6 separate regions of the Homo sapiens genome follow, and all the other regions are reported to be linked to region 2. Evidence: microRNA targets listed by miRTarBase, many of them from high-throughput screens and not tested one by one. Region 2 holds a microRNA gene; each other region holds the end of a gene's coding sequence.

Evidence for each region. The annotated mature microRNA hsa-miR-3929 reads GAGGCUGAUGUGAGUAGACCACU and lies in region 2 at 1,379-1,401, opposite strand. An mRNA with a match to its seed (bases 2 to 7 or 8) in the 3' UTR can be bound and repressed. Matches are read on the target gene's strand: a 7mer-m8 pairs with bases 2 to 8, a 7mer-A1 pairs with bases 2 to 7 and ends in A, and an 8mer does both.
Region 1: the mRNA of ZMYM1 is a reported target of hsa-miR-3929. The part of its 3' UTR that is shown has no 7-base or 8-base seed match.
Region 3: miRTarBase lists DFFB as a target of hsa-miR-3929. Seed matches in the 3' UTR shown: 7mer-m8 at 3,884-3,890, 7mer-m8 at 3,749-3,755 and 7mer-m8 at 3,197-3,203.
Region 4: miRTarBase lists PAK1IP1 as a target of hsa-miR-3929. The part of its 3' UTR that is shown has no 7-base or 8-base seed match.
Region 5: the mRNA of CDCP1 is a reported target of hsa-miR-3929. Seed matches in the 3' UTR shown: 7mer-m8 at 2,093-2,099.
Region 6: the mRNA of SINHCAF is a reported target of hsa-miR-3929. Seed matches in the 3' UTR shown: 7mer-m8 at 940-946.

Annotation. Positions count from the first base shown.
Region 1 is chr1:35,114,312-35,119,386 of GRCh38, forward strand. ZMYM1 (zinc finger MYM-type containing 1) reads left to right here. Exons shown (of 10, transcript NM_024772.5): 10 at 1-1,548. The coding sequence ends at 948. Among named protein-coding and RNA genes, the nearest start is that of ZMYM1, 37 kb to the left of the region's middle.
Region 2 is chr18:35,932,710-35,937,784 of GRCh38, forward strand. MIR3929 (microRNA 3929) reads right to left here and starts at 1,433; the gene lies at 1,379-1,433.
Region 3 is chr1:3,882,822-3,887,888 of GRCh38, reverse strand. It overlaps DFFB (DNA fragmentation factor subunit beta), which reads right to left. Exons shown (of 7, transcript NM_004402.4): 7 at 2,460-4,382. The coding sequence ends at 4,148. Among named protein-coding and RNA genes, the nearest start is that of C1orf174, 15 kb to the left of the region's middle.
Region 4 is chr6:10,709,059-10,714,133 of GRCh38, reverse strand. It overlaps PAK1IP1 (PAK1 interacting protein 1), which reads right to left. Exons shown (of 10, transcript NM_017906.3): 9 at 5,058-5,075; 10 at 4,352-4,896. The coding sequence ends at 4,682. Among named protein-coding and RNA genes, the nearest start is that of TMEM14C, 11 kb to the left of the region's middle.
Region 5 is chr3:45,080,829-45,085,903 of GRCh38, reverse strand. CDCP1 (CUB domain containing protein 1) reads left to right here. Exons shown (of 9, transcript NM_022842.5): 9 at 1-3,627. The coding sequence ends at 266. It overlaps LOC124906233 (a long non-coding RNA gene), which reads right to left. Exons shown (of 3, transcript XR_007095898.1): 2 at 4,030-4,251; 3 at 3,329-3,647. Among named protein-coding and RNA genes, the nearest start is that of CLEC3B, 57 kb to the right of the region's middle.
Region 6 is chr12:31,278,389-31,283,463 of GRCh38, reverse strand. It overlaps SINHCAF (SIN3-HDAC complex associated factor), which reads left to right. Exons shown (of 6, transcript NM_001135812.2): 6 at 593-2,880. The coding sequence ends at 752. Among named protein-coding and RNA genes, the nearest start is that of FLJ13224, 43 kb to the left of the region's middle. RefSeq lists a silencer at 4,215-4,509.

The sequences.
Region 1 (5,075 bases), not on the chromosome of region 2:
GAAACATTGGAAGTTATAGCAAGCCATTCTTCAAATACAAGTTTCGCCGATGAATTGAGTCATTTGCTGACATTGGTTTCCAAATTTGAATTTGTCTTTTGTTTGAAATTCCTGTATCGAGTGCTGAGTGTTACAGGAATTCTTTCCAAAGAGCTTCAAAATAAAACCATAGACATTTTTTCTTTGTCTTCAAAAATAGAAGCAATTTTGGAATGTTTATCATCTGAAAGAAATGACGTATACTTTAAAACAATCTGGGATGGAACAGAGGAAATATGTCAAAAAATAACCTGTAAAGGTTTTAAAGTTGAAAAACCTTCTCTTCAGAAAAGAAGAAAAATTCAGAAATCAGTAGATCTTGGCAATTCAGATAATATGTTTTTTCCTACTTCAACAGAAGAACAATATAAAATTAATATCTATTACCAAGGATTAGATACTATATTACAAAATTTAAAGTTATGTTTTTCGGAGTTTGATTATTGCAAAATAAAGCAAATTTCAGAACTGTTATTTAAATGGAATGAACCATTAAATGAAACAACAGCAAAACATGTTCAGGAATTTTATAAACTTGATGAGGACATTATCCCAGAACTTAGATTTTATCGACATTATGCAAAGCTTAACTTTGTCATAGATGATAGTTGCATAAACTTCGTCAGTCTCGGCTGTTTGTTTATTCAGCATGGTCTTCACAGTAATATTCCTTGTCTCTCAAAGCTATTATATATTGCTTTGTCTTGGCCAATTACTTCAGCAAGTACTGAGAACTCATTTTCTACCCTGCCTCGTCTTAAGACATATTTATGTAATACCATGGGACAAGAGAAGCTTACTGGCCCAGCCCTAATGGCTGTTGAGCAGGAGTTGGTAAATAAACTAATGGAGCCTGAAAGACTCAATGAAATTGTGGAAAAGTTTATCAGTCAGATGAAAGAAATATAATACATGCTCATTTGAACTTACCTAAAAGACTTGTATTTCCATTGGGATGTTTTCATTTCAAAATTGTTCAAAATTCAAAAGACACAGAACGATAAACAGTGAAGTCTCCTTCCCTCCTTTAGAACTCATTTTCTCTTCCCAAAAAGTGTTATCTTTTCCTTAAATATCCCTCTAGAGGTATTTTTCCTAAGTGGTATTGTACGGTGTATACTGTTCTTCAGCTTGTCTTCTCTGTGTAACATATTTTTGAGATTGTCCCATGTCGTTACATGAAGAGTTTCTTGATTCTTGGTCTATAATTGCAGATGTTATTGTATGAATGTACCATAATATATTTGAGCAGTCCCTGCTGACATTTTTTTCCTAACCTTTTGCTATTATAAATAATGATTCATTTTATAACCTTTTATATAGGTCACATTGCACATGAGTGAGTTTACTGTAAGCTGGAAATCTAAAGTTAGAATTACTAGGTTAAGATATGTGCATTTTTACTTTTGATAGATATTGGCAAGTTGCCATCTATAAGGATTGTGCCAGTTTACAGTCCCACCCACAATGCATGAGAGTGCCTATTAAATCTTTGTAAGTGTTATCAAATGTTTTGATCTTTCCTAATCTCTTACTTTAAAAATGGCGTTTTAATCTCAGTAGAATTTTGTATATTCACTTAAGAATAAGGTTGGGGACTGGGCGTGGTGGTTCACACCTATAATCTCAGCCCTTTGAGGGCCTACACAGGAAGGAAGATCGCTTGAGGCCACGAGTTCAAGATGAGGTTGGCAACATAGTAAGACCTCATCACTACAATTTTTTTTTTTTTAAATTAGTGAAGTGTGGTACTGCACACCCGAAGTCCCAGCTACTTGGGAGGCTGAGGCAGGAGGATTGCTTAAGCCCAGAAATTTGAGGCTGCAGTGAGCCATGATTGCACCACTATGCTCCAGAGTCTAGGCAACAGAGTGAGACCTTATCTCTTTAAAACAAACAAGAATGAAGTTAGGTATCTGTTTATTTGTTTGAGCCATTTGTATTTCCTTTTTTGTAGACTGTCCTGTTTAAACGTTAAAATCACTGCTGTGGTTTTGATTTATACATCTCAGCTGGATGGCACAATAAATTATTAAGCCATGTTATGAAAATATAACTATATTTAAGTAACCTGCAAAGAAAAGACTATTTCTTTATACTTCAAAAAAGTTTTGTTTTTGTTTTGAGATGGAGTTTTGCTCTTGTTGCCCAGACTGGAGTGCAATGGTATGATCTCGGCTCACTGCAACCTCCGCCTCCCAGGTTCAAGTGATTGTCCTGCCTCAGCCTCCCAAGTAGCTGGGATGACAGGCGCACGCCACCACGCCTGGCTAATTTTTGTATTTTTAGTAGAGATGGGGTTTCACCATGTTAGCCAGGCTGGTCTTGAACTCCTGACGTCAGGTAATACGCCCACCTGGGCCTCCCAAAGTGCTGGGATTATGGCATAAGCCACCACGCCCAGCCAGAAAAGTTTAAATAACAAAGAAAATGTGATATTCAAAGATTTGAAAGAATTAAGTGGTATATATATCTAGGCCTGGAATTTTTTTTTTTTTTTTTTTTTTTTTTGAGACGGAGTCTCGCTCTGTCGCCCAGGCGGGAGTGCTGTGGCGCGATCTCCGCTCACTGCAAGCTCCGCCTTCCGGGTTCACGCCATTCTCCTGCCTCAGCCTCCCGAGTAGCTGGGACTACAGGCGCCCGCCACTGTGCCCGGCTAATTTTTTGTATTTTTAGTAGAGACGGGGTTTCACCGTGGTCTCGATCTCCTGACCTCGTGATCCGCCCGCCTCGGCCTCCCAAAGTGCTGGGATTACAGGCGTGAGCCACCGCGCCCGGCCTTTTTTTTTTTTTTAAAGACTATTTCTCTGGCACTTTTCTCCAGCTGTTTCTCCCTTACCCTCTCATCAATTTTGATAACTTGTACTTTTTCTAGGAGAACATCTATTTCATTGAGGCTTTCTTTCAAATGCATTTGCCTAGAGTTGTAGAAAATATTCTCAGTATCTTCTATATACCTGTTTTACTTTCTTTCTTTCATTTTTTAAGACGGAGTCTCGCTCTGTTGCCCAGGCTGGAGTGTACGGTGGCGTGATATTGGCTCACTGCAACCTCCACCTCGCGGGTTCAAGTGATTCTCCTGCCTCAGCTTCCCAAGTATATGGGATTACAGGTGCCCACCACCACGCCTGGCTCATTTTTTTGTATTTTTAGTAGAGATGGGGTTTCACCATGTTGGCCAGGCTGGTCTCGAACTCCTGACCTCAGGTGATCCACCCACCTTGGCCTCCCAAAGTGCTGGGATTACAGGCATAAGCCACCATGCCCGGCCCTAATTTATTGATTTCCACCTTAAAAAAGAGAAAACAGGCCTGGCGCAGTGGCTCACACTTGTAATCACAGTACTTTGGGAGGCCGAGGCGGGCAGATCACTTGAGGTCGGGAGTTCAAGACCAGCCTGACTAACATGGAGAAACCCCGTCTCTACTAAAACTATAAAATTAGCCGGGCGTGGTGGCACATGCCTGTAATACCAGCTACTCGGGAGGCTGAGACGGGAGAATAGCTTGAACCCCAAAGGCTGTGGTTGCAGTGAGCTGAGATCGTGCAATTGCACTCTAGTCTGGGCAACAAGAGAGAAACTCCGTTTCAAAAAAGAGAGAAAATAGGCTGGGGACGGTAGCTCACGCCTATAATCCCAACACTTTGGGAGGCTAAGGCAGGCGGATCACAAGGTCAAGAATTCAAGACCAGCCTGGCCAACATGGTGAAACCCCATCTCTACTAAAAATACAAAAAAAATGAGCCAGGTGTGGTGGTGGGTGCCTGTAATTCCAGCTACTCAGGAGGCTAAGGCAGGAGAATCACTTGAACCCAGGAGGCAGAGGTTGCAGTGAGCCAAGATCGTGCCATTGCACTCCAGCCTGGGCGACAAGAGTGAAACTCCGTCTCAAAAAAAAAAAAAAAAAAGAAAATAGAAGTTAACTCTAGTATTGAATGTGTGTTGCATATATTTTCATTCTTTTAATGGAAGTGCTTAAGGCTATGAACTTTCCTCTAAAGTCAGCTTGGTCAACCATGTGTTTTTTCATTTTCATCATTTTCTAGCTGTTTTTAGTTGTAGTTTCTATCTTGTCATAAAATCAAGAAGTTGGGCCAGGCATGGTGGCTCACGCCTGTAATCCCAGCACTTTGGGAGGCCGAGGTGGGCGGATCACGAGGTCAGGAGATCGAGACCATGGTGAAACCCCGTCTCTACTAAAAAAAATTAGCCAGGCGCAGTGGTGGGTGCCTGTAGTCCCAGCTACTGGGGAGGCTGAGGCAGGAGAATGGCGTGAACCCGGGAGGCGGAGCTTGCAGTGAGCCGGGATCGCACCACAGCACTCCAGCCTGGGCCACAGAGCAAGACTCCATCTCAAAAAAAAAATCGAGGTTGGTGTTCTTGTTTTCATTTTCAAGTGTTTGTTTTCTATTCTTGTAGTCTATTATACAGCCAATAATGTAAAAAATAAACTTACATTAAGTATAACAGCTATCTTGGTTGAATGCCTATTAGCCTATTAAGTAACCTAGTACTTCCCTCAGTGTTTTACATATATTATTTCATTTAGTTCTCATAACAACCTATTATTTTACAGAAGAAACTAAAAAAACACATTATGGATTACACAACTAATAGGGGTGAAACTGGATTTGTACCCAGGTAGTCTGACTCCAAAGCCCATGCTGTCAATCACCATGCTCTACTACCTCTTAGACAACCATTATCACTTATAAATATTCCTAAATAAAAGATTATCAGAAGTCCATTAAAAAATAGATGGCTGGGCATGGTGGCTCACACCTGTAATCCCAATACTTTGGGAGGCCGAGGCAGGTGGATCACCTGAGGCCACGAGTTCAAGACCAGTCTGACCAATATGGTGAGACCCCATCTCTACTAAAAATACAAAAAAATGAGCCAGGCATGGTGGTGCACACCTGTATTCCCAGCTACTTGGGAGGCTGAGACGGGAATCGCTTGAACGTGAGAGGCAGAGGTTGCAGTGAGCCAAGATTGCGCTACTGCACTCCAGCCTAGGCAACAGAGTGAGACT
Region 2 (5,075 bases):
ATCCACCATATTAACAAAACGAAAGAGAAGACAAATATGTAATCATTTCATAAGCAGAAACATTATTTCCCTAAGTTCAACTGCCATTTATGATAATGGTGAAATATTGTCCTCTTTTATTATCAAGAACAAGCTAAAAATGTTTACTGTCACCACTTCTGTTCAACATTGTACTGGAGGTCCTAGGCAGTAAAATAAAACAAAATGAAATAATAGGCATAAAGATTGAAAATTAAGAAGTAAAACTCCCTTTGTGTATAAATGACATCATTGTTTGCAAAGAGAATCCTGAGGAATTTATGTAAAAATAGCAAGGTCACAGAATACAAGATCAATCTGAAAAAATCAATTATATTTCGATTTACTACCAGCAAAAAAAAAGTTTAAAAACCAATTTTATTTATAATGATATCTAGAACATTAAATACTTAGAAATAAGGTTAACAAAAGGTATTTAATAACTCTATGCAGAAAACTATGAATTTAGAAGACCTAAATACATGGAGAGGCATTTCATGTTCATAAGTTGAAAAACCCAATGCTTTTATAATATACAGTCTCCTCAGATTGATCTATAGATTCAATGCAATCTGACTGATAATTAGGTCAAGTTTTCAGAGAAACTGACATATTGATTCTGACATTTATATGGAAATACTAAGGTCCTAGGATCTCTAAATTAATACTGACAAGACAGAATATGAGGACTTCCACAACCTGAGTTTGAGGCTCCAGTAGCCAAGCTAATGTACACAAAGCAAGTTTATGCAAATACATGAATAAAACACAACAGGCAGCCTAGACCTAGACTCACACCTATAAGGTTACTTAATGACTGACAAAGCCACCGAAGCTCCAATGGGAAAAGTAAGCGCTTTTCTAGAAATGATGCTGGAAAAATAGATATCCATATGGGGAAGAAAATGAATCTCAATTCCTATCTCAACTCATGCACAAAATTAATTCAATATGGATGATAGACCTAAACATAATACAGCTAAAATTATAGTAGTCCCCCTTTAACCACAGTTTTGCTTTCCATGGTTTCAGTTACCCTCAGCCAACCAAAGGGACATGTGGCTCATCATCCACTCACATCCAAAAAACTAAAAGAGAAATTTTAGAAATAAATAATTCATCCCTTTTTAAAAAAATTTTTTTGAGACAGAATCTCACTCTGTCACCCAGGCTGGAGTGCAATGGCGCAGTCTTGGCTCACTGCAGCCTTGGTCTCTCAGGCTCAAGCAATCCTCCAACCTCAGCCCCCTGAGTATCTGGGACTATAGACATGCACCACCACGCCTGGTTAATTTTTGTATTTTTTGTAAAGATAGGAGTTCGCCATGTTGCCCAGGCTGGTCTTGAACTCCCGGGCTCAAGTGGTCTACTCACATCAGCCTCCCAAAGTGCTGGGATTACTGGTGTGAGCCACTGCACCTGGCCAACTCATACGTTTTAAATTGTGTGCTGTTCTGAGTAGCATGATGAAATCTCAGGCCATCTGTCCCGTCCCTCCTAGGATGTGAATCATCCCTTTGTCTCGTGGATCTACACTGTAGATGCTACCTGCCTATGGGTCATTTAGTAGCCATCTGGGTTATCAGATCAACTGCCGTGACATCACAGTGCTGATGTTCAAGTAACCCTTATTTTAGTTCGTAATGGCCCCAGTGTGCAAGAATAGTGGTGCTGGCATATCATTATAATTGTCTGTTTTATTATAATTTGCTGTAATCTCTTCCTGTGCCTAATTTATAAATTAAACTTTATAATAATATAATATTATATATAATATAATATAATTTATAAATTAAACTTTATAATAATACATATAGGAAAACAACACAGTATATATACAGTTCTTTAGTATCCATGGTTTCAGGTATCCACTGGGGGGTCTTGGAATATGTCCCCAGCAGATAAGCAGGGTATACTATATAGAACTGTCAGGAGAAAAATATTTGAAACCTGAGAATAGGCAAAGATTTCATAGGTCACAATTATAATGATATGCCAGCATCACTTGTCCATGACAAGGTGCTTTACAGAGGCCATTGTCTCCTTTTAGCTAGGCAGTGAAAAGCACATTACAAGTAAAGAAAACAGCAGTTTTCTTAGACTGTTTACTTTGCAATAAAGGAATACCTGAAACTGGGTAATTTATAAAGAACAGGGGTTTATTTGGCTCATGCTTCTGCAGCCTATACAGGAAGCATAGGGCCTCAGAAGCTTCCAATCATGGCAGCAGGTGAAGGGGAGCCAGTATATCACGTAGTGAGAGAGGGAGCAAGAGAGAGAAGGAAGTCTCAGGCTCTTTTAAATAACCAGATCTTGGGCGAATTGGTAGAGCAAGAACTCCCTCATTACTGCAAGGATGGCACCAGGCCACTCAAGAGGGATCCACCCCTGTGATGCAAACACCTCCCACTAGGCCCACCTCCAACATTGGGGTTGCCATTCCAACGTGAGATTTGTAGGGCACAAGTATCCAAACTATATCAATGTCCTCTGAGTGTGTGTGTGTGCACGCGTGAACTCATGGGGTTTCTTATTCTCATAAATTCTGGCAGTCCTCTATTAATTACTTACTTCAGACACAAATTATAACCAGATATGGGACAATATAGTTACTAGGGAAAAAAGTTTACTTTCTAAAAAGAATTGGCATATTCTTTGGTTAATTAAGAGGAGAAAGTATCCAGAACCCTTTTCCAGTTCTCTTTGCAGAAGCGTATAATTGCTTTAAGGGTCTTTCTGGCGAAAAGTGATTAGAGGATACATTCCGCCAAGCACCAGGCTGCTCCCTCGGCATGTCCCCCACTTCTGCTGATGCACTAACGTGTCTCAAATCAGTTGCCAATTGGCAGGTGAATCCTATAAAACTGCAAACCTCTGGTGGAGAAACATTATATAAAAGGAATGTAATTGCAGGAAGCTTTCCACCTGCCCCATTCTAGAGGCATCGCAAAGCAGATTTTGTCTAAAGGCTTACCAGAAAGTGAGAGGGCTCCAAAAGGACTTAGAAGGCCCATCAAGCACAACCTGGCATTGTTCATCCCTAATAATTATATGTGCAGAGTTTTATAGTAGCTCTTCTCCTAGTGGTTCTTTTCATCAGCCTTGTCAATGGAGTGAGAATAAACCTCCCTTCCTGTCTGCCACCCCACCCCACCCCCACTGTGAAGCACCTGGGTTTTGTGTGGGGTTGACTCCCCCGTGCATCCCAGCATCAGCCCGGGCCTGACCAGTCTAGCCCAATCAGGGCATCCCCCACTCCCCTTGCTGTGGTATTTTGTTCAGGGATGAACTCCTGCAGAGAGAGTATGTCTTCATCAGAGACAACTGGCAGGCCTGCCCTGCCGAGGAAAGCCAGCCTGAAGACAAAGCCCACACAGGGCAAGAGAAACTAAGAGAAGTTAAGACAGAACCAGAACCCTGATCAAACCACACCTGGAGCCCACCAAGCATTTGTGTCGCAAAAACTTAGTGAATCCCATCTAATGTTCAAACCTGTGCATTGGATTAGGTTTTTAGTACCCTGCACCCAAAACCTCCTCACTAAAATACTACATATCCTCTGAAATATTAAACAAAAGAGAATGGAAACTACCAACTACTCATGTAATGAGTTTTAGAAATCCTGGCCTTGAAAGATGTTGTGTTCAGGAACGACTATATAACCAACATAGGTTGTATATTTTCATGGGGCAATGACACCTCTAATAATTCACGCATCATTTTCTACTCACGCACTGCTTACTTCTATAAGGATTTCACATGGCTTACAACAAAATACCTATATATTAGGATAATAAAATAAGAGTTAATTATCCAGGGGAAAAGATGGATATATCAGAAAACATCAGTGAAGTATAACTCTTAGGTTGGAACATACAATTTAGCTCCGAGCATTCTGTCAGCCAAGGTTAAAATTATTACAGGTTGAGTATCCCTACTCTGGAAAGCTGAAATCTGAAATGCTCTAAAATCCAAAACTTTTTAAGTACCAACATGATGCTCAAAAGAGACGCTCATTGGAGCATTTCCAATTTTAGATTTTTTGACTTAGGGATGCTGAACAACTAAATGTAATGCAAATATTCCAAAATCTGAAAAATATTGAAATCTGCAACACTTCTGGTTTCAAGCATTTCAGATAAGGGATACTCAACTCAACCTGTATCTTACTATCTGAAAAAGAAAAATATCTATGTTTGCTGGGAGGTATGACGCTTTTTCCTAGCAGTAGTAAGTAAGCTCTAGAGCAGCTGTAGTCAGTTTGGGAAGTTTAGGCCCTTGAATGCTGACATTAGCTGAACCACTTTAGCTTATCTGTATTTAGAGCATCACCAAAAGTGTTGACATTAATCTATGTACTGGCAGTGTTAGAATGTTATCAGATTCTGGCAGAGAAATGTTTACATCAGCACTTGCAAGAAAGTAGGGCGGGGTGCAGTGAGTTTTTCAAGGAAGTACAATGTGATCCCAGCCCCACAGGGTTGTTGTCAGCAGCAGCAGGAGGGCACACTGAGGGCTTGAACTCTGCAGCCCCTCTGTACCCTGAGGACAAACAGGGTAGGGAGGTGGAGAAGCAGAGAGATGAAAAAGGAGGAGGGAAACCATGTGGGGGAGTCCTCAGAAGGGCAGCTAAGCTGCAAAACCCTAAAGTATGCAACTGGAAAGGGAAGGGGTACTTCATTGAGCATGTGCTGGCACAGAAGAGAAATACAGAAACACCGAGAAGTCTTGCCCACCTTAAAAGATAAAAGGGAGATTTGCACACAGTTTAAACAAGGAGAGCATTGTTGGATAACCATAGCTAATCTTTACTGATCACAACACTCCATAAGGTAAGCACTATTATTACCCCTGTTACACTGACAAGAAAAGTAATGTTTATGTGCCCAAAATCTCATGGCTAATCAGTGATGGAGCTAGGGACCTGATCCCAGGTAGTCCAGCTCCAAAGCCAGCTGCTCACTTCTGGTGACTATGACCATCCCATCTACCCTGCTCTGACTGGAGCTGCAACTGTGGGAGACAGTTTCATGTGAGCTGTGACAGCATCCCCAACC
Region 3 (5,067 bases), not on the chromosome of region 2:
AGAGGCTGAGGCAGGCAGATCACCTGAGGTCAGGAGTTCGAGAACAGCCTGGCCAACATAGTGAAACCCCGTCTCCACTAAAAATACAAAAATTAGCCGGGCGTGGTGGTGGGCGCCTATAATCCCAGCTACCTGGGAGGCTAAGGCAGGGGAATCACTTGAACCCAGGAAGCCGAGGTTGCAGTGAGCTGGGATCACGCCATTGCACTCCAGCCTGGGCAACAGAGCGAGACTCTGCCTCTAAAATAAATAAATAAATAAAGTACAACTTCAGATTGCTGCATGAATAACTATTAATAACAGCACCTGGCCGGGCGCGGTGGCTCACGCCTGTAATGCCAGCACTTTGGGAGGCTGAGGCGGGCGGATCATGAGGTCAGGAGATCGAGACCATCCTGGCTAACCTGGTGAAACCCCCTCTCTACTAAAAACACAAAAAAAAAAATTAACCGGGCGTGGTGGCAGGTGCCTGTAGTCCCAGCTACTCGGGAGGCTGAGGCAGGAGAATGGCGTGAACCCAGGAGGCGGAGCTTGTAGTGAGCCAAGATCACGCCACTGCACTCCAGCCTGGGTGACAGAGCGAGACTCCGTCTCAAAAAATTAAAAAAAAATTTTTTTTTTAAATGACAGCACCTATCCTGGTGGTGACGAGAATTTTGCCATCCTCTAAGCAGACTTCAGTGAGGTGCACTGTCCCAAATGATGATACACCTGCAGAGGAGACGCAGCACGCAGAGTGGAAAGTGTGTGTGTTCCTGGGGCCACCCCTATTCACTCACAGTGGTTAACCTGCACTAACAAGCACTGCCAGGTAGAAACACTTCCTAGTCTACATGTGGACTGTAGCCTGCACAGACCTAGGGGGACTGACCAAAGGGGGGCGAATGAGGGAATAAAAGATAAGATACAAAAGAGTGTATTTGTGCTCACGCACACCCCCTGGCGCAGGCCGACTGTGGCTCTGCCTACAGCGCTTCCTCCTGAGCTGCAGGAGGGCCATGTCTTGTGGTCGTGTTTGCTGCAGCTTTGCCGTCTGGATGGAGCCTGGCACTGAGCTGGTTGAGGCCGTCTGCAGGCCTTTACTGGGCTCTTCCCTTGGAAGCTTCTTACTGATGCCAGGACCTCCCAGCAGGTGACCCTCAGCCCCACAGATCACAGAATTCCACACTCTTAGCTCCTAGAACTTTTCTCCCTCTTGTGTGAGAATGCACAGACCACACACTCTTTCTTTGTTGCAGAGGTTCAGCCACCTTTTCTAACCTGAGACTCTGGGTGACATAACTCCTGATAGGTGATAGCTCTTTGTAACAATCACCAGCACCTTGCCCAGCCAAGGGCCCGGAAGCAAGAAAAAAACAACCAAAACACCATGTCACAGCCAGGAGAGCCTTGCACGCTTCACACACAGCTCAACAAGCCTGGGTTTCCGGTGTCTCAACTCCTGCAGAAATGAAGCCTCAAGTCAGGAAGGGTGAGGAGGGGCACGGACAAGGCCCAACGGCAGCAGGATGGCGCAGAAAGCCTGAGGGACACAAAACCTTCTAGGCCTAGTCGTAGGCAGTGGGGCAGCACCGTGGAGCCACGTGGTAGAGGGATAGCCGCCCTGTGTGTCCAGGGCAAGGTGGCACAGCATGCCTGGACCGCTGAGAAGGAAGGACTTCCCTCAAGAATGTGTCTTGCGCCGGGTGCAGGGGCTCACGCCTGTAATCCCAGCACTTCAGGAGGCCAGGGTGGGTGGATCGCCTGAGCCCAGGAGTTTGAGACCAACCTGGACAACATAGTGAGACCATCTCTACAAACATAAAAATAAATTAGCTAGGCATGGTGGCACATGCCCGGGGTCTCAGTTACTGCAGAGGCTGAGGCAGGAGAATCACTTAAACCCAGGAGTTCAAGGCTGCGGTGAGCTGAGATCACACCACTGCACTCCAGCCTGGATGACAGAACAAGACCCTGTCTTAAAAAACAGACAGACAACAAAAGAATGTGTCTCTGAAAAAGGCCCACGTCTGTGGCTGTTAAACAGAGCAGCTCGTCTCCTGAGGCTGGAGCGATGGAGCTGGAAGGGCCTCACAGCTGTCCGGGCCAGGCTCCTTGCTGCACAGGTGGGATCTGCTGGCTCCAGAGAGTTCTTCAGACCCTGCAAGAGGGATCTGAGAAGAGGGACCAGGCCCCCCGGTTCCCAGGCCCTGACTCTCCCACTGTTTGTCCTTCCCTGATCAGAGCAGATAAACATCACCGTACCATAGATGGGACTTCTAGAAATTCCCCACACAGGACTGGGTTAATTCTAAGGTATTGCTTTAGCTCTGTGAAGAAAATGTAGTCAATTTGTAAAATTGAAGTCAATTTGTAAAATGACTCAATTTGTAAATGAAGTCAATTTGTAAAATATCACAGACTCCTTATTTTTATCCTTATTTTCAGCATCCTCAATGAGTGCAAACTTTCTTGACATGTCTATTTTTGAAAAATCTTTATTGCTTTTCCTGATTGTACAACAAATGTAAAAATTCAAATATTACAAAATGACTTAATTTAAAAAGTACATTTTAACATGTTATAAAATAAATGCCCATTTCAAAAAATTCAAGTATCATAAAATACATGACGTAGAAAATGAGCCCTCTGTAATCTAGCCCAACCCCCGTATCCCCCAGGATTACTGCTGTTCAGATCCGCGTGTTTCCTTCCAGACCGTCTCTGTGCACCCGCCACCCACACGGCTGACATGAGCTCCATATGATCCGAGATGATAGTAACGCTGACCAACGGAGCAGGGTTCAGCTGCCGATGCCCTGAACAGCTTCCAGTTTCTACACAGAAACGCTTTCCTCATAAAAGCCTGAAACTGTGACACAGTTTTGCACTATGTAAATGTATCAGGTTGAATCATGAAATAAATGATCGCTCACCATTTTTGGCCTAGAAAACAGCAGTTTCACGTGGTTCAACGTGATAGCTGTTCAACAGACATTGGGGGGTTTCCTATTTCTTGCCATTATAAACAATTCAGCAGGTCAGGTGCAGTGGCTCATGCCTGTAATCCCAGCACTTTGGGAGACCGAGGCGGGCAGATCACCTGAGGTCAGGAGTTCGAGAACAGCCTGGCCAACATGGTGAAACCCCGTTTCTACTAAACATACAAAAATTAGCTGGCCCTGGTGGTAGGTGCCTGTAATCCCAGCTACTTGGGAGGCTGAGGAAGGAGAACCACTTGAACCTGAGAGGCGGAGGTTGCAGTGAGCCAAGATTGCATCACTGCACTCCAGCCTGAGCGACAGAGTGAGACCCTGTCTCAAACAAACAAAAAAAAAAATCAGCAGTGAATGTCCTTGTATGTTCTTTACGGAGTATAAACATCGTACCCCCAAAGCATGACACCTCTTTTGGGCATTTAGAAGAGTCAAGAGGATGGAGCTGCCCATTTGCCATGGAAAGGGAGACCCAGCAGAGAGCTGATACATAAACAACTTGTCCCTCAAGCAAGGTGGCCAACTTCAGCCATGACACCATTTGAGTATGGTGACCACATTACATGAGCAAACCCAACGCTGGTGAAACCAGAGAACAGAAGAATTCCTCAGCCCAGAGACAATTCTTATCCCTACTGACCCGTATGACCAGGTACTCACAGACATCCAACGAGTACCCCAGAGCTGTCCTCTGGAAGTTGGGCTGTCAGAAGGTATAAGAAATGATTCAGGCTGGGCGCAGTGGCTCACACCTGTCATCCCAGCACTTTGGGAGGCTGAGGTGGGCGGATCACCTGAGGTCAGGAGTTTGAGACCAGCCTGACCAACATGGTGAAACCCCGTCTCTACTAAAAATACAAACATTAGCCGGGCGTGGTGGCACATGCCTGTAATCCCAGCTACTCGGGAGGCTGAGCCGAGATCGCGCCACTACACTCCAGCCTGGGCAACAAAAGTGAAACTCCATCTACAAAACAAAACAAAACAACAAAAAAAACCCCAACAATTCAGAAATGTAATGAAATCAGATTTGGAGGAAACATTTTTTAAGGTTTTTTCCAGGAGCTACTGGAGTGACCAAAAAAACGAAAAACAAAAAAACAAAAAAGGCACCTGTTAAAATGATGCCCACGTCAGGCCTCAAACAAAGACCAGGACGTGGTGTGTACGTGTCACTGGCGTTTCCGCACAGGCTGCTTCCGCTTCAACCTTGTCTGGGGTTTGTAGATTCTGCTTGGGTCACAGTTGAGCTTGTGGGTGGTTTTCTTATGGCAGACAATGTGCACTAGTTTTAGGTTCTCTGAGGTAAAAAGCAGGCCATAAAAATACTCCCAGTCCACTTCTCTTCCATCTTGTTCCTTAATTGCTTCCACCAGTGTAGGAATGATGGTGCGTTTCTTTTCTATTCTGCAAAGTAAGGTTAGAGACATCATTTTCTGTGGTCACAGTGCCACAGGCAACAGGTCATAGCAGTGTATTGCAGTCACAGCTCTTCACAAATTCCCCTAAGTGCTATCACGGACACACGGCCGCACCTACTGGCCAGGTTTGTTGAGCAGAGCCTGATGCAAGCAGCCTGGCTCCTCTTACTTTTTAAAACTTGACTTGTGGCCGGGCACGGCGGCTCACGCCTGTCATCCCAACACTTTGGGAGGCCGAGGCGGGTGGATCACTTGAGGTTGGGAGTTCGAGACCAGCTTGGCCAACATAGTGAAACCCCATCTCTACTAAAAATACAAAAAATTGGCTGGGCTTGGTGGTGGGCACCTGTTATCCCAGCTACTTGGGAGGCTGAGGCAGGAGAATCACTTGAACCCTGGAGGTGGAGGTTGCAGTGAGCCAAGATCACGCCACCGCACTCCAGCCTAGGCAACAAAAGCAAAACACCATCTCAAAAAAAAAAAAAAAAGACTCGTGTCACTGTTCAGAATACTGAAAAGTACGCAGAAAATAAAGGGGGTCAACCACCTTTCCATCACTTACAGTCACCCACCATCAACAACTGGCTTAACTGCCTCCACGTTTCATCTACGTATACATTTACCCCCAAAAAATTACATGATAGAACATGAAAGTTTTACAAACAGAGCCT
Region 4 (5,075 bases), not on the chromosome of region 2:
CACCGCAACCTCCGCCTCTCGGGTTTGAGCGATTCTCCTGGCTCAGCCCCCCTAGTAGCTGGGATTACAGGCGCCTGCCACAATGCCCGGCTAATTTTTATATTTTTAGTAGAGACAGGATTTCACCAGGTTTTCCAGGTTGGTCTTGAACGTCTGACCTTAGGTGATCTGCCCACCTCGGCCTCCCAAAGTGCTGGGATTACAGGCATGAGCCACCGTGCCTGGCAGAACTGGTTCTTTGAAAAGATAATAAAACTGACAAAGCTCTAGGAAGACTGACAAAGAAAACAGAGAGGACACAAATTACCAATATCAGGAATGAAACAGGGGATGTCAAGTTGACCTTTCTTCAACTTGACAAAGAATATCTACGAAAACCCTACAGCTGGCATTATACTTAACAGTGAAAGACTGAATATTTTTCCCCTAAGATCATAACAAGGCAAAGATGTCTGTTCTCACTATTGTTATTCAACACAGTGCTGCATCTTCTAGTCAGTTAATAAGGCAAGAAAATGGGGAAAAATACAGATAGAAATAACACTATTTATATTTGCAGATAACATAATTGTCTACATAGAAACCCCCAACAAAACAACTCCTAGAATAAATGAATTCAGCAAGATAGCAGGATGTAAGATCACACAAAAATAAACTGTATTTCTATGTATTAGCAATGAATATGGGCACCAAAATTAAAAATATCACTTGTAGGCCAGGTGCAGTGGCTCATGCCTGTAATCCCAACACTTTGGGAGGCCAAAGTGGGCAGATCACGAGGTCAGGAGTTTGAGACCAGCCTAGCCAATATAGTGAAACCCCATCTCTACTAAAAGTACAAAAAAATTTGCCGGGCATGGTGGCAGGCACCTGTAATCCCAGCTACTTGGGAGGCTGAGGCAGGAGAATCGCTTGAACCCAAGGAGGCAGAGGTTGCGGTCAGCCGAGATGGCGTCACTGCACTCCAGCCCAGGCACCAGTGCAAGACTCCATCTCAAAAAAAAAAAAAAAAAAAAAAAAAATTACTTGTAATTCCCCCACCCCAAATACTTACAAATAAATCTAACACGTGCAAGATTTGTATGCTGAAAACTACACAACACTGATAAAAGAAATCAAAGATCTGGCTGGGCGCAGTAGCTAAGGCCTGTAATCCCAGCACTTTGGGAGGCCAAGGCGGGCGGATCACCTGAGGTCAGGAGTTTGAGACCAGCCTGGCCAACATGGCGAAACCCTGTCTCTTCTATAAATAAAAAAATTAGCCGGGCGTGGTGGTGTGTGCCTGTAATCCCAGCTACTCGGGAGGCTGAGGCAGGAGAATTGCGTGAATCCAGGAGGCAGTAGTTGCAGTGAGCTGAGGTCGCAAAATTGCACTCCAGCCTGGGTGACAAGAGCAAAACTGTCTAAAAAAATAAAAATAAAATAATAAAAAAATCAAAGATCTATACAGCCATGTGCTGCGTAATGACATTTTGGTCAATAATGGTTTGGTCAATAACGGATCACATATACAATGGTGGTCCCATAAGATTATGACTATACCGTATGGCCTTGGTGTGCAGCAGGCTCTACCATCCAGGTTTGTGTAAGTACACCCTGTGATATTCACACAAAATGAAATCACCTAATGAGGAATTTCTCAGAATGTATTCCTGTCATTATTGACATGACTGTACATTTTTTTTTTGTAGAGAAGGATAGAATTATCCTAAATTCTATATGGAAAGGCAAAGGAACTAGAATAGTGAAAATAATTTTGAAAAACAGAAAAGGGGGAGAATCATTCTACTCAAATTCAAGGCTTATTATATAGCTGCAGTAATCAAGACCATGTGGTTCCAGCAAAAATATCAACAGAGATCAATAGAACACAATAGAGAGCCCAGTAATAGACCCACACTAATATGCTCAATTGAATTCTGGCAAAGATGCAAAAGTATTTCAATAGAGGAAGAACAGTCTTTTCAACAAGGCGCTAGAGCAAGTCGATATCCATAGGCAAGAAAATAAACTTGGAATTAAACCTCACACTTTATACACTCAAAATGGATCACATACTAAATGTAAAATGTAAAACTCTACAAAACCTTTAAAAAATATATAGAACCTCTTCAGGATCTAAGGCTAGACAAAGGTCTTGGACTTCACACCAAAAGCATGATCCATGGAAGGAAAAATTGATGAACTGGATTTCAACAAAATAAAAAACTTGAGCTCTGCAAAAGGCTGTTAGGACAAAAACACAAGCTACAGACTAGGCAAAAATATTTGCAAACCACATTATCTGAGAAAGGCTGAGTTTCTACAATATATAAAAGAACTCTTGGCCAGGTGCGGTGGCTCACGCCTGTAATCCCTGTACTTTGGGAGGCCGAGGCGGGTGGATCACTAAAGATCAGGAGTTCGAGACCAGGCTGGCTAACATGGTAAAACCCCACCTCTACTAAAAATACAAAAATTAGCTGGGTATGGTGGCACGCACCTGTAATCCCAGTTACTCAAGAGGCTGGGGCAGGAGAATCGCTTGAACCTGGGAGGTGGAGGTTGCAGTGAGCCGAGATCACGCCACTGCACTCCAGCCTGGGTGGGTGACAGAGTAAGACTCCGTTTCAAAAAAAAACAAAAACAAAAAACTCTCAAAATTCAACAGCAAAAAAGAAAAAATATATAATGTGAACATGGGCAAAAGACTTTTCACCAATTATGATACACAGATGGCAAATAAGCACATGGAAAGATGATTAACATCATTAGCTATCAGAGTAATGTAAGTTATAACCGCAATAAGGTATCACTACACTCTTACCAGAATGGCTAAGACTAACATCAAATGCTGGAAAGATGCAGAGAAACTGTATCACTCAAACATTACTGGTAGAAATGTAAAACCATACAGCTATTCTGGAAAACTTTGGAATTCCTGGGCATTTATCCAAGAGAAATGAAGACTCTAGTTCACATAAAAACCTGTACACAAATGTTTACAGCAACTTTATTTAGATACCTAATAACAGGAAACATTCCTGACGTCCTTCCACAGGTGTTTACTATGGTACATCTATACTGACATCCCACTCAGTACTAAAAACAGAACTATTGATGCAACAAGCTGGATCAATGCCCAGAGATTATGCTGAGTGAAAAGCCAATCCCAAAAGAAAGTATAATCCAATCAATTTTGGCAAAATTAGAGATGGAGAACAGACCGCTGGTGCCAGAGGTTATGAAGGTGGGCATAGCTATACGAGCACAAGAGGAAACTGAATATGGCTTATGACAACAGATGGGATCATTGTGATAGAAATGTTCTGTATCTTGATTATATCATTTCTATCCTATCTTGGCTTGGTTGTGATATTGCCCTTGTTTTGCAAGATGTTATCATTGGGAAAACCGGGTGGAATCTCTGTATTATTTCTTACAAGTGTATATTTCTCACAATGATCTCAAAATTTTTGAGTTGAATTGAGAAAAAAAAAAGCCAACGACCTACATTTATGCTAATAGCTTATGAAATAAGCTAACAAAGGAGTAGACTGATATTAAGCACACAATTTGGTTCATTTCCTAGACAATTTATTCCTATGGAGTGGCAATTCCAGTGCCCGTTCTTATTCTGCCTAATCAGAAGTGATTCTCCTGATGGTCTCAGGTATCTAGTATCTGCCTGGCTAATTCAAACCTATGGATCCCCAATAATGTCTTTTTCTTTCTTTCTTTTTTTTAAGACAGGGTCTGGCTCTGTTGTCCAGGCTGGAGTATAGTGGTGCAGTCGCAGCTCACCGTAACTTCCACATCCTGGGCTCAAGCCATCCTTCCCACCTCCGCCTCTTGAGTAGCTGGGAGCATGTCACCACATCTAGCTAATTTTTTGGGAGAGACAGTCTCCCTATGTTGCCCATGCTGGTCTCAAACTCCTTGGCTCAAGCTACCAGCTACTCGGGAGGCTGAGGCAGGAGAATAGCCTGAACCCAGGAGACGGAGGTTGCAGTGAGCTAAGATCGCGCCACTGCACTCCAGCCTGGGCAACAGAGCAAGACTCCGTCTCAAAAAAAAAAGAAAAAAAGAAAAGATCATTTTCCCGTCCTTAAATTATTTTGTACATCTACTACTTGGAAGCAAAGTAGTTTAAAGTCTGGCAATCTCTCTATAATCTTAGGTACGTGGTCCTACACTTAAGCATATGTTTGTTTCATAGATATGTATAATTATATATGTATAATCTTTTAAGTTTGTCTGGTTGGTATGAAAATCTAAAATTACTACTTACCATTTGAAGAAGCCAAAGGCAGTTCTTAAATTCTTTCCCATTTAAGAGAAAATTTTGAATAATGACTCCTTCATCCAAATCTGATAAAGAATGTGTTCAATATTTTATATTATTTTACAGTATATTTTGAGAAAGATCTTTATTTGCTTTGTACAAAGTAAAAATTACATGACACATTAACATATTATATATCAACATGATACATAATTCATAAAACACTGTCTGCCAAAAGTAATTTTACCAGTTTTTTTTTTTTTTTTAAAAAAAACCATCTAAAAGTGGTTTTTTAATATATATATTTTTTCCAAAGGAAGAAATTTCTTGCTTTTACTCAGGGAAAAAAAAAAAATTAAGGTACATTTGAGTAGAATGATTTCATCTAAAAGAGTTCTTTCAGGAGACATCTGTGATTCACTGCATTGTTTTTATTTTCTTCTTTTTCCTCTTCTTTTCCAACATTTCTACCATTTTCCTCTTCTTGGTTGATATCAGGCCACTTTCTTTTGTTGCTTTCTTACTGTCACCTGTTAAACCGCGTTTCTTTGTGTTAGGTTTTGACCGCTTTTCTTCTTTGTGCACTGTGTCACCAGGCTCCTTTTTGCCAATTTTGGACTGTTCTTTACTTACTAAAACACAAAAGAGAGTGCTTTTAAAAAAAGACTGTTTTCCCCTTTGAATGAAATAAACACAAGCTGTCAATAAAGTGAAATTATCTGGATCTCCTCCACTTCTACAATTTAAGAGATAATAGATTATTCAAAATTTCAAAACAATCAAATTCGATTACCAGGAGAAGGCTCTGCAG
Region 5 (5,075 bases), not on the chromosome of region 2:
ATTCCAGCGGCTCCTTCCTGCAGCCAGAGGTGGACACCTACCGGCCGTTCCAGGGCACCATGGGGGTCTGTCCTCCCTCCCCACCCACCATATGCTCCAGGGCCCCAACTGCAAAGTTGGCCACTGAGGAGCCACCTCCTCGCTCCCCTCCTGAGTCTGAGAGTGAACCGTACACCTTCTCCCATCCCAACAATGGGGATGTAAGCAGCAAGGACACAGACATTCCCTTACTGAACACTCAGGAGCCCATGGAGCCAGCAGAATAACTTGATCCATTCCAGACGCTTTGCTGAGTTTCATAAAGCAGGGCACTGAGACACCCGTCCGTGTTCCTAACCAGAAATCCTAAAGAAGAGGAATTATACAGAAGGAACAGCAGGAGGTTTTCCTGGACACCGCCAACTTCACATTGCTCAGTGGACTCATTCTAAGGGCAAGACATTGAAAATGATGAATTCCAATCTGGATACAGTCATGACAGCTCATGTGCTCCTCAACTTAGGCTGTGCGGTTAGCCAGCCTGTAATGAGAGGAGAGAGGCCTGAGTCACCTAGCATAGGGTTGCAGCAAGCCCTGGATTCAGAGTGTTAAACAGAGGCTTGCCCTCTTCAGGACAACAGTTCCAATTCCAAGGAGCCTACCTGAGGTCCCTACTCTCACTGGGGTCCCCAGGATGAAAACGACAATGTGCCTTTTTATTATTATTTATTTGGTGGTCCTGTGTTATTTAAGAGATCAAATGTATAACCACCTAGCTCTTTTCACCTGACTTAGTAATAACTCATACTAACTGGTTTGGATGCCTGGGTTGTGACTTCTACTGACCGCTAGATAAACGTGTGCCTGTCCCCCAGGTGGTGGGAATAATTTACAATCTGTCCAACCAGAAAAGAATGTGTGTGTTTGAGCAGCATTGACACATATCTGCTTTGATAAGAGACTTCCTGATTCTCTAGGTCGGTTCGTGGTTATCCCATTGTGGAAATTCATCTTGAATCCCATTGTCCTATAGTCCTAGCAATAAGAGAAATTTCCTCAAGTTTCCATGTGCGGTTCTCCTAGCTGCAGCAATACTTTGACATTTAAAGAGAAATTTAGAGAATATTCTCATCCTCTAAAAATGTTTAAATATATACCAAACAGTGGCCCCCTGCATTAGTTTTCTGTTGCCACTGCAACCTATTACTTGGTAGCTTAAAAACAACACATTAGCTTATAGTCCTGGGGATCAGAATTCCAAAATGGATGTCCCTGAATGAAAATCAAGGTGTCAGCAGAGCTGTGCTCCTTCTGAAGGCTCTAGGGAGAAGCCGGTTCCTTGCCATTTCAAGCTTCTAGAGGCTGGCTGCATTCCCAGGCTCCAGTGGCTGGTCAAGCTTTTCTCACATGGCATCACTGTGACACTGGCCCTCCCACTTCCCTCTTTGACTTACAAAGCCCACCAGGAAGATCCAGGATAATCTCTCCATCTAAAGTTCCTTCATCATCCTGGAAGAGCCTTTTGCCATGCAAGACAACATAGCCACAGGTGGGGATTAGGACCAGAACATCTTTGGGGTGCTGTTATTCTGCCTACCACACCTTCCTGCCACTGACTCCCACAGGAGAGGCTACAAAATGATCTGGCGCACAGGGATGTTTTGTTTAGCTTGCGGACTCTAACACTTAAAAAAAAACCCAGATCAGAAGATCTGGCCATGCTGGGGCTCACATTCTCACCTAGCAACAACTGGCTGGAGCTGGGCACCAGCTCTGCCTTTAGAAGGGGTGTCCACTTCACCAGGTCACCACAGCCCACACTACGCCCTATCACTTCCCACAATGAGGCTGAGTGTTTGTTTCTACTGATCAATGCCCCTGCAGGTTGCATTTATTGTAATGAAAAAGAAAGACTGGGATTAATCTCTAATCAGGTGAGTAGACCATGAGACCAATGTGTGCTCACATTACCCTTTTTCTTTTTTTTCTTTTTCTTTTTCTTTTTTTTTTTAATGTGAGACAGGATCTCATTCTGTTGCCTAGGCTGGAGTGCAGTGGCGCAATCTCGGCTCACTGCAACCTCTGCCTCCTGGGCTCAAGCAATTCTCCCACCTCAGCCTCCCAAATAGCTGGGATCACTGGCACAAACCACCATGCCCAGCTAATTTTGTATTTTTTGTAGAGACAGGGTTTCACCATGTTGCCCAGGCTGGTCTCAACCTCCTGGGCTCAAGCAATCCTCCTGCCTCGGCCTCCCAAAGTGCTGGGATTACAGATGTGAGCCACCGCATCCAGCCCCACACCCTCATTTATACCAATTACCTGCCCAGTAACTGTGGACTTTTGCTTCCTCACCCCTGCTCTGATCTGGAAGGAGAGGGATTATGTTATAGCTTGTCAGCACAGTCCCAAGTTCAATATTTCTGCGGCAAAAACTTCCTTCAAAAAATAAATGTACTTCATTGTATTCAATGAATTCACCTTGGAAATGCACCGCCTCAACTTGTTCACATGGCATAAATGAAAGGAATTTTATAGTCTCCTAAATGGCGTGTACTGCAAGACCTCTTGAACACTTTCCAGAGGATAGGATATTTAAGTCATGCCCTTGGCGTTGCCTATGGCACCTTTCCCTTCTGAAAGTCTGGTTCCTGCCCAGTGACCCTTGGCCTTGTGAGCCGAGATGCTGACCCTGCATAAAGGGCCAAAGGAGGGCTGCGGCTTCCTTCCCTCACTGAAGAGCCCTTATTTGAATTCACTGTGTGGAGCCCTAGCCCTCCATTCTCGACATTCCCCAACCTCCCAGCCCCTTCCAAGCAGGACTAGGTGCCCTGCATTCCACCCAAGGTGGGATTGGCCTTCCTTAGGCTGGCTACTTGTCACCATCACCGACATCACTGTTGCCTGCAAGGACACCACGTGGCCATTTTCCTTCAACTGAGGGCTCAAAACTCCTGGACAAGTTGCTGGCTCCTGAGACCAGTATTTCCTGGAGCTGTGCCTCAGTGAAGGGGCCCAGCCTGAGGAACCCTGGCTCTTTTCTTTAAAGCCCAGGCCCCACTTACGTAAAACATTTCAGGGTCACTGGAAACAGTGAAGTGCCATTTGTTGAAGCCTACTGCATGCCAGCCCACTGCTCATCCACGTGGTCTGCCATGCCTACGAGGAAGGCCAGCGCATGCAGGACTGGTCTCTAATGCTGTGGTCATTGCACAGAAGGGAAAGGTCTCAAGGAAGAGTCAACTGGAACAAGCACAAGCCCACCGGACATGGCCTTGGTAAAGGTTAGCAGACTGGTGTGTGTGGATCTGCAGTGCTTCACTGGAAATAATTTATTCATTGCAGATACTTTTTAGGTGGCATTTTATTCATTTCCTGTGCTTTAAATAAACAAATGTACCAAAAAACAAGTATCAAGCTGTTTAAGTGCTTCGGCTACTTGTCCCCTGGTTCAGTAGAGGCCCCGGTTTCCCAGTTGTTGACTGTGACAGGCTCAGCATGGGCTCAGCAGATGCTGTCTTAATTTGTGGATGATACAGAAAGCCAGGCTTTGGGATACAAGTTCTTTCCTCTTCATTTGATGCCGTGCACTGTGTGAAGCAGATGTTTTTGTCCGGAAATAAAAATAATAGTCTTGGAGTCTCGCCACCACTGGTTTTCAAGTCTCCCTGTATGCAAGTGGAAGGAATGGAAGCTATGCCAATGGGTAGCTGAGAGGCCAGGGCTTGTTCTGTTCTGTTCTGTTCTTGTGGGGGCTACATGGGCCCCACCCTTTGTGACCTTTCCCAATACCTAACCCCCATAGAGGCCCAGGGCCACCCTAATCACTGACCACAGTTGATCTCTAAGCCCCGTGGAGGTCACCAGCCACCAGAACAAAAGTTAAGGGAGAGCAGTGAGAGAGGGAAGTTCCCATGGCCCCCACCATCTGCCATGCACTAGGAGGGGAGACCCAAGCACATTGGATTGAATCCACCGAGAAAACCAGATGTTGCTGTGTAATGAGCCACCCCAAAATTTAGTTAACAATTAGTAGTTTTGCTCACAAACCTGTAATTAGAGCAGGGTTCAGCAGGGACTGTATATCTCTCCTCCATGTGGCCACAGCTTGGGCAGCATAATTAGAATCCTCTTTCAAGTGGGCTCCATGACACTGCTGACAAGTTAGTGCTGGCTATTGGCTGGGAGCTTTGACTCCTGGTCACTTGGACCACTGCACAGGGCTTCTTCACAACATGGTGGCTGGGTTCCACAACTGAGTGCTCCCAGATTCTAAAGGTCAGAACAGCCAGTCTCTCAGAGGCTGGAACTGGACACTGGCATGACATTACTTCCATTCTATTCCTTTTTTTTTTTTTTTTTTTTTTTTTGAGACAGGTTCTCACTCTCTTGCCCCAGCTGGAGAACTCCTGGGCTTAAAGCGATCCTCCCACTTCAGCCTCCCGAGTAGCTGGGACTACAGCCATGCACTACCATGCCCAGCTAAACTTCCATTCTATTCTATGGGGGGCATTAGTCACAGAACCTACTCCGATTTACATGGAGGAAGCAAAGATTCCCCCACCCCATCTCAGTGGGAGAGGTGTCAAAGAATTTGCAGCCATCTGTAATAGGCTTCAGTGGGGCTGGGGAGATCACAGCCAAGTACCATGCCTGTGGACAGCACTGACCACCTTCACTACTGCGTCCTTGATCACCATGACCACATCTGGGCTGCATCCCACCTCTGACTGCCCCTTCTCCTGGATCCTGTTCCCAGGACTCAAGGTTCAGTCTTTGGTCTTCTGGCCTTTTCTCTCTGGACACTGCCCCATAGGGAGGGTACTGTCTTAGTCCATTTGTGTTGCTATAAAGGGATACATAAGCCTGGGTAATTTATGAAGAAAAGAGGTTTATTTGGCTCATGATTCTGCAGGCTGTACAGGAAGCATGAAACCCAGCATCTGCAACTGATGAGGGCCTCAGGCTACTTCCCCTCATGGCAGAAGACAAAGGGGAGCCTGCATGTGCAGAAATCACATGGTGAGAGAGGAAGGGAGAGAATGGCAGGGGAAGGGGTGGCGCTAGGCTGTTTTCAACAACCAGCTCTTGAGAGA
Region 6 (5,075 bases), not on the chromosome of region 2:
GCCTGGCTAATTTTTGCATTTTTAGTAGAGATGGGGTTTCGCCATGTTGGCCAGGCTGATCTCGAACTCCTGACCTCAAGTTATCTGCCCACCTCAGCCTCCCAAACTGCTGGGATTACAGGTGTAAGCCACCACACCCGGCCCACACATGTATTTTTATCTACTCAGTATTTAATTAAAAATTACCACTCAAGCACTTAGGAGTTGATAAAGAAAAAAAATTAAATATATATAAAAAATTGCTAGCTGCATCAGCCTGTTTATGGTGGCTGATTTTTTTTTCAAGAGTTGGTGATTTTGGAGGAAATAGTTAACAACATCAGGGGCAGCCTTTGAAACTGACTGCTGTCTTTCAAAATGCCGTCTTCCTCAATATTTGAGAAGATTCCAGTGTGGCCTTTAAGGCAACTGGGTAATTCCCCTTCTCTAGCTAATTGGGGTTACTCTAGGAGCCCTTTCACTTGGAATGTGCAAGATTGTAGAAGCACAACTCTTTGGTTATATTGGACTAGTTATAATAGTGAGTAGATTTCTTTTGTATTCCTATTTTTCTTCCTTATTAATGTATCTTGTTCTCCATTTTTTCTTTTAGACAGAAGATATGTTGTGGGATCATCTATAAAGGCCGTTTTGGGGAAGTCCTCATTGACACACATCTCTTCAAGCCTTGCTGCAGCAATAAGAAAGCAGCTGCTGAGAAGCCAGAGGAGCAGGGGCCAGAGCCTCTGCCCATCTCCACTCAGGAGTGGTGACTGAGGTTTTTATGTAGAAGGGGAACAAAAAAAAAAATATCTGAATTTTGAAAAACCACAAAGCTACAAACTGACCCTCTTTTTTTTTTGAGACGGAGTTTTGCTCTTGTTACCCAGGCTGGAGTGCAGTGGCGTGATCTTGGCTCACTGCAACTTCCGTCTCCCGGGTTCAAGTGATTCTCCTGCCTCAGCCTCCCAAGTAGCTGGGTTTATAGGTGCCCGCCACCAGACCCGGCTAATTTTTTAGTTTTAGTAGAGACGGGGTTTCACCACGTTGGCCAGGCTGGTCTTAAATGACCCTCTTATTTTTAACTTGGATACCTGCTATTCTGCCAAAAGACAATTTCTAGAGTAGTTTTGAATGGGTTGATTTCCCCCACTCCCACAAACTCTGAAGCCAGTGTCTAGCTTACTAAAAAAAGAGTTGTATATAATATTTAAGATGCTGAGTATTTCATAGGAAAGCTGAATGCTGCTGTAAAGTGCTCTTTAAGTCTTTTTTTTTTTTAATCCCCTTCTAATGAATGAAACTAGGGGAATTTCAGGGGACAGAGATGGGATTTGTTGTATGATAAACTGTATGTAGTTTTTAGTCTTTCTGTTTTGAGAAGCAGTGGTTGGGGCATTTTTAAGATGGCTGGCTACTCTTGTTTTCCCTCATGATAATAAATTTGTCATAACTCAGTAACATGAACTTGCCCCTAGAGGTAGTTGTTAATAATTTTGAAATATTAAGGTCTTGCCAAGCTTCTGATGATTCACACCTGTACTACTGATTATTAAGCAGGACAGACTGAGCTTTCTGTTGCAAATACCTTGGAGGAGAAAGTAATTTCTAAATATACAGAGAGGTAACTTGACTATATATGTTGCATCCTGTGCCTCCCTTCATATTAATATTTGATAAAGATTTTAATTTATGTAAAACTTCTAAAGCAGAATCAAAGCTCCTCTTGGGGAAATGGCAAGTCTTTAGGATAGGCAAGACCCTGTATGAATAGTACCAAAGCATTACCGCATGGTAGAGAACACACTCGATTAAAAATGTTAAGCTATCTGAAAAATAAAATGTGCAAGTCTTCAGGATGGCACAAAACAAAGGTTAATGCTTCTTGGGGCACATTTCTTAGAGGGCTTGCTGAGTGTGTAAATATAATCGACTTTTGTTTGTGTTACATGACTTCTGTGACTTCATTGAAAATCTGCACAATTCAGTTTCAGCTCTGGATTACTTCAGTTGACCTTTGTGAAGGTTTTTATCTGTGTAGAATGGGTGTTTGACTTGTTTTAGCCTATTAAATTTTTATTTTCTTTCACTCTGTATTAAAAGTAAAACTTACTAAAAGAAAAGAGGTTTGTGTTCACATTAAATGGTTTTGGTTTGGCTTCTTTTAGTCAGGCTTTCTGAACATTGAGATATCCTGAACTTAGAGCTCTTCAATCCTAAGATTTTCATGAAAAGCCTCTCACTTGAACCCAAACCAGAGTACTCTTACTGCCTCTTTTCTAAATGTTCAGGAAAAGCATTGCCAGTTCAGTCTTTTCAAAATGAGGGAGAAACATTTGCCTGCCTTGTAATAACAAGACTCAGTGCTTATTTTTTAAACTGCATTTTAAAAATTGGATAGTATAATAACAATAAGGAGTAAGCCACCTTTTATAGGCACCCTGTAGTTTTATAGTTCTTAATCTAAACATTTTATATTTCCTTCTTTTGGAAAAAACCTACATGCTACAAGCCACCATATGCACAGACTATACAGTGAGTTGAGTTGGCTCTCCCACAGTCTTTGAGGTGAATTACAAAAGTCCAGCCATTATCATCCTCCTGAGTTATTTGAAATGATTTTTTTTGTACATTTTGGCTGCAGTATTGGTGGTAGAATATACTATAATATGGATCATCTCTACTTCTGTATTTATTTATTTATTACTAGACCTCAACCACAGTCTTCTTTTTCCCCTTCCACCTCTCTTTGCCTGTAGGATGTACTGTATGTAGTCATGCACTTTGTATTAATATATTAGAAATCTACAGATCTGTTTTGTACTTTTTATACTGTTGGATACTTATAATCAAAACTTTTACTAGGGTATTGAATAAATCTAGTCTTACTAGAAAATAAAAGGAGCTGTTTTGTGGCTTTGTTTGACAGGTCTTCAGTAAGAATAATGTTTTTGGCTTTCACATATACTCAGTTTAAGTGCTTAGTATTAATAACAAGCCATGAAGGGAATAAATTCCTCTTCACTGAGACATAGACTTTGGAATAAAAGACATTTTAACTGATGTGCACAATTATTAATCTAGTGGATAAGATGGATTTAAAAGGAAGAACAAAATGTTCCCAGTACTTTTTACTGTCTGTGGTTTTATTACTATCTATGGGCATAGTGGGAAGCATCATTGAGACTTTAGGGAAACTATAAAAGTTGGAAGGGTGGTGGCATCAGGGGTTGGATGCTGGTTCTCAAGTTCCTAGCTCTGCCCCTTGTTAGTCATTTGAGTTAAATAATTAATGGGAATATCTACTTCACAGGATTATGAGGAATCCTAAGAGGTGTAATCCATATCAAACTTTTAGAAACCAGTTGTTTTATTACCTGGGAAAGGTAATAAAGGGCCAGACTTTTTATACTACTGTTAGTATTTAAATTTGGGATAGTCTGGATGCCACCTAATACAGTTACTATGAAATTAACAAGGTAACTAAGGAAGTTGATAGTACCAGTATTATCTATTGCTATGTCCTAAATTACCATAGATTTAGTGGCTTAAAACAAATGCGTCTCAGTTTCTGTCTGAGCATGGTTTAGATAGGTCCTTTAGAAAGCTCATGGTCTCATCTGCATTCTCACCTGGTGATTTGGGAAGAACTCATTTCAGCCTCACTCGGCTGGCAGAATTCAGTTCTTGCCACTGCAGGACTGAGTGTCCAGACCTCTCACTGGTTGTCAGCTGGAGGCCCCCGCTTAGTTCCTTGCCAGCTGGGTGCTCCCTGCATGGCCTGGCTGCTGACTGGACCACTGACATGATTACTGTCACTACCAGCAAGTGTCGAGAGCCAAGCTGCCAGCAAGAGGGGTCTTTTCAGGTCCTGCCCATATCCAAGGGGAGAGGCTCATACGAAGGATTGGATACCAAGAGGTGCGGGTGGGGCTAATGGGAAGGCACCTAGAGTTTGTCACAGCTTTTTTTTTTTTTAACTGAATCTCTTTAAATTGGTCGTCTCGCCCTACAATGCAAATGCTTTGTGTAGCAAGTAAAAAGAAAAATGGCTCTCACAATATGAAAAACCCTGGCTGGGCACTGTGGCTTATATAAACCTGTAATCCCAGCACTTTGGGAGGCCCAGGCGGGTGGATCCCTTGAGGTCAGGAGTTCAAGTCCAACCAGGCCAACATGGTGAAACACCGTCTCTACTAAAAATAAAAAAATTAGCCAGGCATGGTGGCATGCGCCTGTGGTCCCAGCCACTCGAGAGATTGAGGCAGGAGAATTGCTTGAACCTGGGAGGTAGAGGTTGCAGTGAGCTGAGTTGGGCCACTGCACTCCAGTCTGGGTGACAGAGTAAGACTCCACCTCCAAAGAAAAAAAAGAAAAGACCTACTGTTGGGCCAGACACTTTTAAACATTGTTTAAGTAACCCTGCAAAGTAAAAAAAAATCTATTTACCGGTAAGAGGAGGTGCCAGGAGGTCATGTAACTTGAATGAAAGAATCTGCTTTTCTTATTTGAAAGCCTTTGTTCTCTAAACTGTCTCCTGTCTGCTGCAGTAATGCTGTCCTAACCCTCATTGGAAACTATTCCCTGGGTCTCTTCTTGCCTCCCTTCTTTCTGAAGGCTGAAATGAGGGGCAAGTTTAACTTTTGCAGATACGTTGATCTTTAACTTAAATCAAATTCTGTTTTTTAATTTTGATAATGTTCAAAGTACCTATTATCTGTCTTTTTGTGGAGAAAACTGCTGGAGGTTTAGTGAAACGATATCTTAAAACAATTCATCAAGGTGGCTGCTCTGCAGTGAACAATAGAAGGTACCCTGGGAGCTCTTCTATTCAGCGTCCCTAGAACAGTTTCCTAGTGCCCCAGATTTAGCATTGTAGTGGCCAGGCAATCATTTTTGTGTGATGTTCAGTGAACTCGGAAGGGAGGAGAAAGCCAAATTAGATCAAAGATAGATAATTTCACAGGCTCATGTTCTCAAAGAAAGGGATCTGCGGGTTCTGTCTAACAATTTCTCAAGCTGTGGAGTTTGGTTACTCATTGTAGTCATGAGAATGCTTTAGGTATCAAATACCTTACACCCTGGTTAGAAACTGC